Linked DNA regions of Homo sapiens. The protein of the gene in region 3 interacts with the protein of the main gene of each other region in a biochemical or structural test. Each region holds a gene or a part of one and is shown on either strand. Other genes may lie near its edges.

Region 1 (3,653 bases), on a different chromosome or scaffold from region 3:
GACAAAGCTCCTTGCAAAGCTAACCTTGGGAGGTTTGGGGAAAACCACAAAGAGGGTGACAAGATAATTTCAGATAGGGCTAAGGGATAGGAAGAAAATGAAGATGGGACATGTTAAGTAATAATAATAGATGACATTTGAACACTGTGCCAGTCACTCTGTCGATTGTTTTACATATACCTTGTGACAACCCTAAGAGGTAGGCACCGTTATTACGGACATTTTACAGGTGAAACAGGGACACAGGAAAAGTAAGTAACATGCCCAGCTGTTGAATCAAGGCAGCCCGGGACCAGAGTCCACTCTCTGAGAAATGGCATTTGGGCAGGATCGAGAATGAGGAGGAGATCCAGTGTGGCAGAGGCCCTGGGGAGGAATGGGCTGGAAGTATTCGAGAAACCCAAAAGTAAGAGTGGCCTGAGTGGCCCAGAGAGGTTGATGGGAGGCAGGAGTCAGAGCGTGTCTACCCTCGTAGGCCATTGGAGGCTTACATGTGGAAGGGACAGGTTCTGATTCCTGTTTAAAAAGAGGGCTGCTGTCCGGGCGCGGTGGCTCACGCCTGTAATCCCAGCACTTTGGGAGGCCGAGGCGGGCGGATCACGAGGTCAGGAGATCAAGACCATCCTGGCTAACACCCCGTCTCTACTAAAAATACAAAAACAAAATTAGCCCGGCATGGTGGCGGGCGCCTGTAGTCTCAGCTACTCGGGAGGCTGAGGCGAGAGAATGGCGTGAACCTGGAAGGCGGAGCTTGCAGTGAGCCGGGATTGTGCCACTGCACTCCAGCTTGGGCGACAGAGCGAGACTCCATCTCAAAAAAAAAAAAAAAAAAAAAAAAAAATGCCGGGCGCGGTGGCTCACGCCTGTAATCCCAGCACTTTGGGAGGCCGAGGCGGGCGGATCACGAGGTCAGGAGATCGAGACCATCCTGGCTAACACGGTGAAACCCCGTCCCTACTAAAAATATAAAAAATTAGCTGGGCGTGTGGGCGCCTGTAGTCCCAGCTACTCGGGAGGCTGAGGCAGGAGAATGGCGTGAACCCGGGAGGCGGAGCTTGCAGTGAGCCGAGATTGCGCCACTGCACTCCAGCCTGGGCGACAGAGCCAGACTCCGTCTCAAAAAAAAAAAAAGGTTGCTATGTGGAGAATAGATTGTGGGGATGGGGGTAGTAGTGGAAACAGAAGTGGCCTGCAGTAGTGCATGGGAAACCGGGTGACGTTGAGTGTGTGAGGAGTGGCACCTGAGAAGTGGTAAAAGAATCTCCAGGAGACTAGTATTTTCAGGGTACCCCGAATTTTACAGACAGCTCTGACAGGTTAAGCCCACAATAGCTTCGTTTGGATCAGAATTCAGGTCTCTTGAAGCACGGTTTTTGCTTTTTGATTAATTTTCCAGAGGAGGAAAAGGAGTAATAGGTATAATTTTAAACTATTAATATGATGACTGGCAAACTTGAATTATGTGACTGTGGGTCTGGCTTGGTATAATATGATTTACTTTTGTCATTATCTACTTTTGTATATACAAGCAGGCTTTTAATTAATTTTAGTTCATTTCAAATCTGTGAGCTTTTATGAATTGAGCCAGTTCCTAGAGGCTACTTTTATGGTACACTGGAAATTGTAGTTGTCAGGAATAAGATTAAGATTATTTAGTGGGTCAAAATTTTAATCCTGTTAGATTGTCCTGTGAGTTTAGTTTGCTTATTATTAATTGTGCTGCTTTGTGAGTAACAGGCAGAACGGAAGGACTGTAGTGCTGTTTAGTCACAAATCTTAGGAATTAGCTACATCACATAGCTTGGGATAAATTTTTGCCTTATAGTATGTTTATATGGAGGTACAATTTTTAAAATATCTCTTTCATTTATTTTTTTCATAACTTTTATTGGGATATAGTTCACATACCATAAAATTTACCTTTTAAAGTAGGCCATTTACAGATTTTTAGTCTATTCATTAAATTGTGCAGCCGTTATCTAATTCTATAACATTTTCACTTCCCCAGAAAGAAACTCCATATTTATTTCCCAGTTATTCTCCATTCCCCTTCCCCCTGCGTTGGCAACAACTAATTTACATTCTAAGTCTCTATGAATCTGCTTATTCTGAACATTTCATGTAAATGGAATATACAGTATGTGGCTTTGTCTGGTTTCCTTAGAACAATGTTTTCAAGGTTCATCCATGTTATGGCACGTATTAGTACTTAATTCCTTTATATTGTTGAATAGTTGTGTCAATATGCCACATTTTATCCATTTATCCATTGTTCCTTAAAATTTTTCTATTTCTGGCCAGGCGTGGTGGCTCATGCCTGTAATCCCAGCACTTTGGGAGGATGAGGTGGGCGGATCACGAGGTCAATAGTTCGAGACCAGCCTGGCCAATAGGGTGAAACCCCGTCTCTACTAAAAATACAAAAATTGCCTGGCATGGTAGTGTGCTCCTGCAGTTCCAGCTACTCGGGAGGCTGAGGCAGAAGAATTGCTTGAACCTGGGAGACGGAGGTTGTGGTGAGCCGAGATCATGCCGCTGCACTCCAGCCTGGGTGACAGAGCGACACTCCGTCTCAATTAAAAAAAAAAAAAAATTCTGTTTTGTTTTTTGTTCTTGTAAAATTTTTATTAAAACATTTAATTTTGAGGCCGGGTGCGGTGGCTCATGCCTATAATCCCAGCACTTTGGGAGGCTGAGGTGGGCAGATCACGAGGTCAGGAGATCGAGACCATCCTGGCTACGGTGAAACCCCGTCTCTACTAAAAAAAAAAATACAAAAAATTAGCCGGGCATGGTGGCGGGCACCTATAGTCCCAGCTAGTTGGGAGGCTGAGGCGGGAGAATGGCGTGAACCCAGGAGGCGGAGCTTGCAGTGAACCGAGATTGTGCCACTGCACTCCAGCCTGGGCGATAGAGCGAGACTCTGTCTCCAAAAAAAAAAAAAAAAAAAAAAAAAAAATTTTTACTTTTGAAATAATTTCAGACTCACAAGACCTTGCAAAAGTGGTACAGAGTTCTTTGTGTACTCTTTATTCAACTTCCCTGACGTTGATATCTTAACCATAGAACATTGTTGAAACCAATAAATTGACATTGAGACAATGTTATTAATTCAAGAAAGATTTTACTTGGATTTTATCAGTTTTACATGCACTCTCTGTGTAGTTCTAACAAATTGTGTCACTTGTGTAGATTAGAATAATCACCACAGTCAGGATGCCAAACTGTTTCATTACCACAAAGAACAGTCACTCTCTCTTCAAATCTAAGCTTGGGAAACACTGATCTGTTCTCTATCACTTAATGTTGCCACTTTGAGAATGTTATATAAATGGAATTATACAGTATGTCACCTTTTGTGATTCGCCTTTTTTCATGCAGCGTAATGCCCTTGAGATTCATCCATGTTGTTGCCTGTGTGAGCAGAGCATTCCTTTTTTTTTTTTTTTTTTTTTTTTTTGAGATGGAGTTTTGCTCTTGTTGCCCAGGCTGGAGTGCAGTGGCACGATCTTGGCTCACCGTAACCTCCGCTTCCTGGGTTTAAGCGATTCTCCTGACTTAGCCTCCTGAGTAGCTGGGATTACAGGCATGTGCCACCATGCCAGGCTAATTTTGTATTTTAAGTAGAGACGGGGTTTCTCCACTTTGGTCAG
Region 2 (3,653 bases), on a different chromosome or scaffold from region 3:
CATGCCTACTGACATAACATGTATTCTGCAGCCCATGGATCAAGGAGTCATTTCAACTTTCAAGTCTTATTATTTAAGAAATACATTTGATAAGGCAATAGCTACCATAGTGATTCCTCTGATGGGTCTGGGAAAAATCTATTGAAAACCTTCTGGAAAGGATTCACGATTCTATATGCCATTAAGAACAGTCATGGGGAGAGGTAAAAATATCAACATTAACAGGAGTTTGGAAGAAGTTGATTCCAACCCTCATGCATGACTGAAATGTTCAAGACTTCTGTGGAGGAAGTAACTACAGATGTGGTAGAAACAGCAAGAGGACTAGAATTAGACATGGATCCTGAAGATGTGACTAAATTGCTCCAATCTCATAATAAAACTTGAACAGATGAGGAGCTGCTTCTTATGATGAGAAAGTGGTTACTTGGCCGGGCGTGGTGGCTCACGCCTGTAATCCCAGCACTTTGGGAGGCCAAGGTGGGAGGATGGCTTGAGCCCAGGAGTTCAAGACCAGCATGGGCAACATGGTGAGACCCTGTCTCAAAATAACTGATTAGTTTATTAATTAATTTTTTTAAAAAATAAGTTTCTTTCTTTTTTGTTTTTAAGAGCTAAGGTCTCACTATGTTGCCCAGGCTGGCCTTGAACTCCTGGGCCCAAGCAATCCTCCCATCTCGGCCTCCGAAGTAGCTAGGACCACAGGTGCATGCCACCACACCCAGCAGAAAGCGGTTTCTTGAGATGGAATCTACTATTGGTAAAGATGCTGTGAACATTGTTGAAATGACAACAAGGGACTTAGAATATAACATAATCTTAATTTATAAAACAGTAGCACAGTTTGAAAGGACTGACTCCAATTTTGAAATAAGTTCCTCTGTGGGTTAAATACTATCAAACATCATCGCATACTACAGAAAAATCTTTGGGTAAGGGAGGGTCAATAAATGCAGCAAACTTCATTGTTTAAGAAATTGCCACAGCTACTCCAACCTTGAGCAGCCGCCAGATGAGTCAGCAGCCATCAATACTGAGGCAAGACCATAGCTGGGTGCAGTGGTTCACACCCCTAATCCCAACTACTCAGGAGGCTAAGGCAGGAGGACTGCTTGAGGCCAAGAATTCAAGGCCAGCTTGAGGGCAACATAATGAGATTCCATCCCTTAAAAAAAATAAAAAAATAAAAAATAAAAAATGAGCTGGGCATGGTGGCATGTGCCTGTAATCCTAGCTACTTGGGAGACTGATGCAGGAGGAACGCATGCACCCAGGAGTTCGATGCTGCAGTGAGCTATGATAGCACCACTGCACTCCAGCCTGGGCAACAGTACCAGACCCCATCTCCCTTAAACAAAAATTATTATTGAGGCAAGACCTTATACCAGCAAAAAGATTATGACTCACTGAGGGCTCAGATGATCCTTAACATTTTTTAGCAATAACGTATTTTTAAATTAAGGTCTGTACATTTTTAAAAGACATGACGCTACTGCAAAGTTAACAGACTACAGTACAGTGCAAACATAACTTTTATATGCATTGGGAAACAAAAACTTTGTGTGACTCGCTTTGAGGTGGTCTGGAACTGAACGTGAACCCATAGTATCTCCAAAGTATGCCTGTAATACTTTAGCCAATTTAAAAATATCCCCAAACTAGTAACAGTGATAGAGAGGATTTGGAGAGCATGAGCAAAAGAGCTTACCTAAAGTGGGAAAAACCCCACAAAAAAGTGCCAGTTATTCCACAAGGTCTAAATTGATTTTAGTTGATCATCTTTCTTCCCTTCTTTTGGAGACAGGGGTCTTGTTCTGTCACCTAGGCTGGAGTGCAGTGGCATAATCACAGCTCACTGTAGCCTCTACCTCCTGGGCTCAAGAGATCCTCTCACCTCAGTCTCCTGAGTAGCTGGGACTACAGGCACGTGCCACCACACCCAGCTAACTTTTGTGTTTTTAGAAGACAGGATCTTGCCATGTTGCCCAGGCTAATCTCAAGTTCCTGGGCTCAAGGCCTTGGCCTCCCAAAGTGCTGGGATTACAGGCATAAGCCACTGTACCGAGCCTTTTTCACTTTTAGTAAGGGAATTCCTAAGCACCCGCAGCCTTATTCACTTTGGCACTTCAACAAGTTGCTGGTTTCAAGTAATCTAAAGGAAAATGGTAATTTGTCAAGCCTGGGATGCACTGTAGTAGAAACACTAATGTAAATAAAACTTACTAACCAATGAAACTACAGAGGAAGAAGAGAACAAAATATTTTCTGACAAGAGAAGTTCTAGAAATTCAATTTTGCAAGTAAATTTATATTTAAGGGAATCACACACAATTAAAAATGCAAATTTTAAAAAAGATATAACAGTTGACCTTGAGGTAGGAGAATCACTTGAATTCACTTGAATCACTCCAACTCGGGAGGTGGAGGTTGCAGTGAGCCGAGATCGCGCCACTACACTCCCACCTGGGCAACAGAACAAGACCCCGTCTCAAAAAAAAGTAAAAAGCAAAGGAGGCCAGGCACAGTGGCTCACGCCTGTAATTCCAACACTTTGGGAGGCCAGGGTAGGTGATCACCTGAAGTCAGGAGTTTGAGATCAGCCTGGACAACATGGTGAAACCCCGTCTCTACTAAAAATATAAAAATTAGCCAGGTGTGGTGGCACGCACCTGTAATCCCAGCTACTCGGGAGCCTGAGGCAGGAGAATTGCTTGAACCCAGGAGGCGGAAGTTGCAGTGAGCCAAGATCATGCCACTGTACTCCAGTCTGGGTGACAGAGCGAGATTCCATCTCAAAAAAAGAAAAAAAAATAAAAGAGAGAGAAAAAAGAAAAAGCAGAGGAAAAGACAAATTTGCCACGGTTTTAAAAATCAATTTATGTAAAAAGCACACTATAAGTGACATCTGAAGGACCTATAACAAGCTGAGAAATAAAAGTCTGCCGCACAACAAAGGATACTTTCTCTTTTTTTTTTTTTTTTTTTTTTTGAGATGGAGTTTTGCTCTTGTCGCCCAGGCTGGAGTGCAATGGCACGATCTCGGCTCACTGCAACCTCCACCTCCCAGGTTCAAGCAATTCTCCTGCCTCAGCCTCCCAAGTAGCTGGGATTACAGGCATGCACCATGACGCCCGGCTAATTTTTTGTATTTTTAGTAGAGAAGGGGTTTCTCCATGTTGATCAGGCTGGTCTCGAACTCCCGACCTTGGGTGATCCACACGCCTCAGCCTCCCAAAGTGCTGGGATTACAGGCTTGAGTCACCAGACCTGGCTAGGATACATTCTTAATAAAGAGTTCTTAAGATCAAGAAAAAGATCAACAATCTAATATTAAAAATGGGCAAAAAATTCAAAATTACAACAAGGTATTTTATAGATTACCAGATTTGGCAAGATTTTTCAAGTAATATTACCTAGTTCTGGTGGCTTCACAGGAGATACAAGAACACTCCCATTTCCACTGCTTTGCCTAGAGCAGTCCTCTTCCAAGTCTTTGTTCAAATGTCACCTTTTCAGTGTGGCCTCCATCACCCTATTTAAAACTGTAACCTTATCTCCATTTCTCAACCCCCACTTATCTTTCTCTTTTTTCTCCACCTATCACCTAATATACTATTTAATTTACTTATTTATGTCTATTGTTTATTCTGTCT
Region 3 (3,653 bases):
AAAAGATTATATGATGTGGAAACTCCTTTTCTAAACTATTGTAGAATTTGAATAATACTCATTTTCAGAATTCTCTGCAACAGAACAACATCTCTTTAGACTGTAGTTTGTTAGGTTTTTGCTCTGAGGAGACAGAACAGTTGCTGCTTTACCATTTGTCTTTTACGTGCTTAAAATAAAATTATAAAGTCTTTCTTCAGCCTTCTTATACCCAGTTTCTTTAATCTTTCCTATGGTTCCTGTTTCTCTACTTTTTCCCTGTGGTTTCTTGTGAAAATATAAATCCTCCATGCTGCTTTGTTTAAATAGTACTATGTAAACTCTAAAGTGTTATGCAAATGATAAGTTATTTTATTATTACAAAGATGGTAGACCCTTGAACTGCACGTTTATGAAAGTAGTTCAGTGCTTGCTTTGTTGTTGTTTTGGTTTTTTTGATTCCCAAGTTCTGCCTTAGGATCTCCAATGCTTGCTTTTAATGGTTCTTGGACAATCGATGCTGTTACTGAAAAATTTGGAGTTCATATCTTTACACTCCATGGTCCATATCTCATCACTTTCCTAATTCTTATAACCATTTTATTTAAATTCAGTTCTGATGAACATACACCAGTGGAGGATGAAGAGCCAAAGAAAAGCACTACTTCAGCTTCTACTTCAGAAGGTATTTTTAAAAAAAGGGTATTTTTAAAATACAAGCTATTTTATTGAGAGATTTAAAAAAATCAGTTTGTAAATAGTTGAACATTAGACTTTGCTTTTACTCAAATTGCCCATCGTCTGTTTCTTTTGATGTTCAGAAATAGTTTTTTAGAATATAATTTTTTAATTTGTACTTTCTTAGAAGAAAAAAAGAAGAAGTCTAGCCGTTCAAAAGAAAGGTCCAAGAAAAGGAGAAAGAAAAAATCATCGAAAAGAAAACATAAGAAGTATTCTGAAGATAGCGACAGTGACTCTGATTCTGAAACAGACTCCAGTGGTAAGAACGCCAACAGCATTCTGCAAGCCTTGCTTCAAAACTAGTTTTACTTCTTAAAACTTATTTTAGAAGAAGGTTCCTGAAAACAATAATAATACTGAAGAGTTTTTGAACACTTGCTAACCTTGTGCCAGGTACCCCAATAAGTGCTTTATATTTATTATTGCCATTTAATCCATACAATAACTGTAGGGTACATCTTATAGATGAGGAAATGGAGACAGAGCAGGTTATAAGTACTATCCCTAAGGTCACACAGTTTGGATTCAAACCTAAGCAATCTGACTCCGGATTGGGATTGGTTGTGCAAAGTGTACAAGGCACATGGCACCAGACCAAGTCAGGGGGTTGGGCTGTACCAAAGTAAGCCTTACAGGGCTGCATCGGCCCAGTGGAAGGGCTCTTTTGTTTAATTCTCATGCCCAATGAGCACCTCTACAGTTTTCAAAAAGGTATGCCATAAAGTGCCTACTTCATGCTGGCTGCCTATTTGTGGAAGGCACCCTATCTGGGGTAGTGCATCACAAAGAGTCTCCTTTTTGTACTCTCTCCTGGCTGATGATTGACCAGAAGGTGCCTCCTCTGAGGTTAACACATTACACAAAGATTCACCTTCCTCTGATATCGCCGAAGTTTCCTGGCCCTCCCTGTCACTTCTCTTCCTCAGTGCTCGAAGACAGAACTTTCAAATATTTCTGTATGCAACACTTAAAAAGAGGCATTTTTATACTTAACTACAACACTATCTCATACAATAAAATTAGTAATAATACCCTATACACCAAATACCTACTTAAAATCCTTCAATAGCACTCCATAGCCTTCAGGGTAAAGTTCAGACCCTGACTCATTTCTCTCTAATCACATATACCCTGTTACACTCTCTTGCAACATCCTCTGTAATCTGAAAACTACTTTCTGTCTCCTCAGTATTCCATGTTCTTTCTCTTGTTACTTGGTAGAGAGGCCCTCTGCCTACAATGCCAGTCTCTCCCTCCATCCAGCTTGGTTTACTCATTGCACCAATGGGCATGCATTACTTTTGTAATCAAAGAACTACTTTAAGAGTCACCTTTCCTGATCAACCATTCCTCAGCCACCCTCCTCAAATCAGTCTGATTTTGAGACTCCTCTGTGTGTCCAGGTTCCCCAAGCTTCCCTCTATCATTCCAGATTGTATTGATCTCTTTACCTATCTGTCTCCTCCATTAGACTGAGCTCCAGGAAAGGATTCTCTCTCCCCTCTCCAACACACACATAGTTTTCTTTCCCTTTTTATCACAAAAATATTTAAATATTCAGAAAAGCGAAGAGAATAGTATAATTAATACCATATACTTAATCACCTAGATTTGGCAGTTGTTGGTATTTTTACATATTTGCTTCAAATATGGGTTTTTCACTGAGATAGTCAAAGTTAATTACAAATATCATCACACTTCCACCCTAAATATTTCTGTATGCATCCCGTAAAAAGAGGCATTTTCCTAATTAGCCACCACACTATCTCACACAATAAAATTAATAATAATACCCTATATCATCAAAACCTAGTGACTTTAATTTCTATGTTCATAGTACCTCCCTACAGTTCGTGACAAATAGCAATAAATGTTTCAATGAGGTAATTTCTTTGTAACAATAAATGGGACAGCAATAGGATAGTTACCTACTCAAAAGTACTACGGTTTTAGAGTTAAAAAATTTTTTTCTTAATTGTAATGTGCTTTAATTTGCAGATGAAGATAACAAAAGGAGAGCAAAGAAAGCCAAGAAAAAGGAAAAGAAGAAGAAACACAGATCGTCAGTTTTTTAAGTTTTATTATGGAAAATTTCTTTTCTTTTTTTTTTTTTTTTTTTTTTTTTGAGACAGAGTCTCACTCTGTCAGGCAACAGAGTGCAGTGGTTCGATGTCAGCTAACTACAACCTCCGCCTCCCAGGTTCAAGCGATTCTCATGTCCCAACCTCCCGAGTAGCTGGGATTATAGGCACCCACCACCATGCCTGGCTAATTTTTGTGTTTTTAGTAGAGATGGGGCTTCACCATGTTGGCCAGGCTGGTTTCGAACTCCTGACCTCAAGTGATCCTCCCACCTTGGCCTCCCAAAGTGCTGGGATTACAGGAGTGAGCCACTGCACCCGGCCAGAAAATTTCAAATGCATATAAAATTACATAAAATAGTATAATGATCCTTCCTGCACCTGTCATGCAGTCTAAATAATTATCAACTCATGGGCAGTATCTGCCATCCATCATTTATTTTGGACCCAATCTCAGATATCATTCCATCCATAAGCAATTCAGTACCTTTCTCTAAAAGATAGGCATTCTTTTTGTTTTGTTTTGTTTTTTTTGAGATGAAGTCTCGCTCTGTCGCCCAGGCTGGAGTGCAGTGGCGCGATCTCGGCTCACTGCAAGCTCCGCCTCCCGGGTTCACAAAGATAGGCATTCTTTAAAACAAAACAAAACAAAAAACTGGCCAGGCACAGTGGCACATATCTGTAATCTCAGCACTTTGGGAGGCCAGGCAGGAGGATCGCTTGAGCCCAGGAGTTCAATACCAGCCTGGGCAACATAGCGAGATCCTGTCTCTATATTTAAAAAAAAAACAAAAACCCATAACCAGAATGCTATTATTGTGCCTAAAACATTTAATAATAATTCCTCTATTC

What was found.
Region 1: of the proteins of NKAP (region 3) and SRPK2, one has a biochemical effect on the other in vitro, tested with the Homo sapiens proteins (one large-scale study listed by BioGRID).
Region 2: of the proteins of NKAP (region 3) and SRPK1, one has a biochemical effect on the other in vitro, tested with the Homo sapiens proteins (one large-scale study listed by BioGRID and IntAct).

What each region holds. Positions count from the first base shown.
Region 1 is NC_000007.14:105,382,360-105,386,012, reverse strand, and holds part of SRPK2 (SRSF protein kinase 2), read left to right. Parts: intron 1-3,653. UniProt on the Homo sapiens protein: Serine/arginine-rich protein-specific kinase which specifically phosphorylates its substrates at serine residues located in regions rich in arginine/serine dipeptides, known as RS domains and is involved in the phosphorylation of SR splicing factors and the regulation of splicing.
Region 2 is NC_000006.12:35,911,004-35,914,656, forward strand, and holds part of SRPK1 (SRSF protein kinase 1), read right to left. Parts: intron 1-3,653. UniProt on the Homo sapiens protein: Serine/arginine-rich protein-specific kinase which specifically phosphorylates its substrates at serine residues located in regions rich in arginine/serine dipeptides, known as RS domains and is involved in the phosphorylation of SR splicing factors and the regulation of splicing.
Region 3 is NC_000023.11:119,933,623-119,937,275, reverse strand, and holds part of NKAP (NF-kappa-B-activating protein), read left to right. Parts: intron 1-593; coding exon 594-664; intron 665-844; coding exon 845-979; intron 980-2,718; coding exon 2,719-2,782; intron 2,783-3,653. UniProt on the Homo sapiens protein: Acts as a transcriptional repressor. Plays a role as a transcriptional corepressor of the Notch-mediated signaling required for T-cell development. Also involved in the TNF and IL-1 induced NF-kappa-B activation.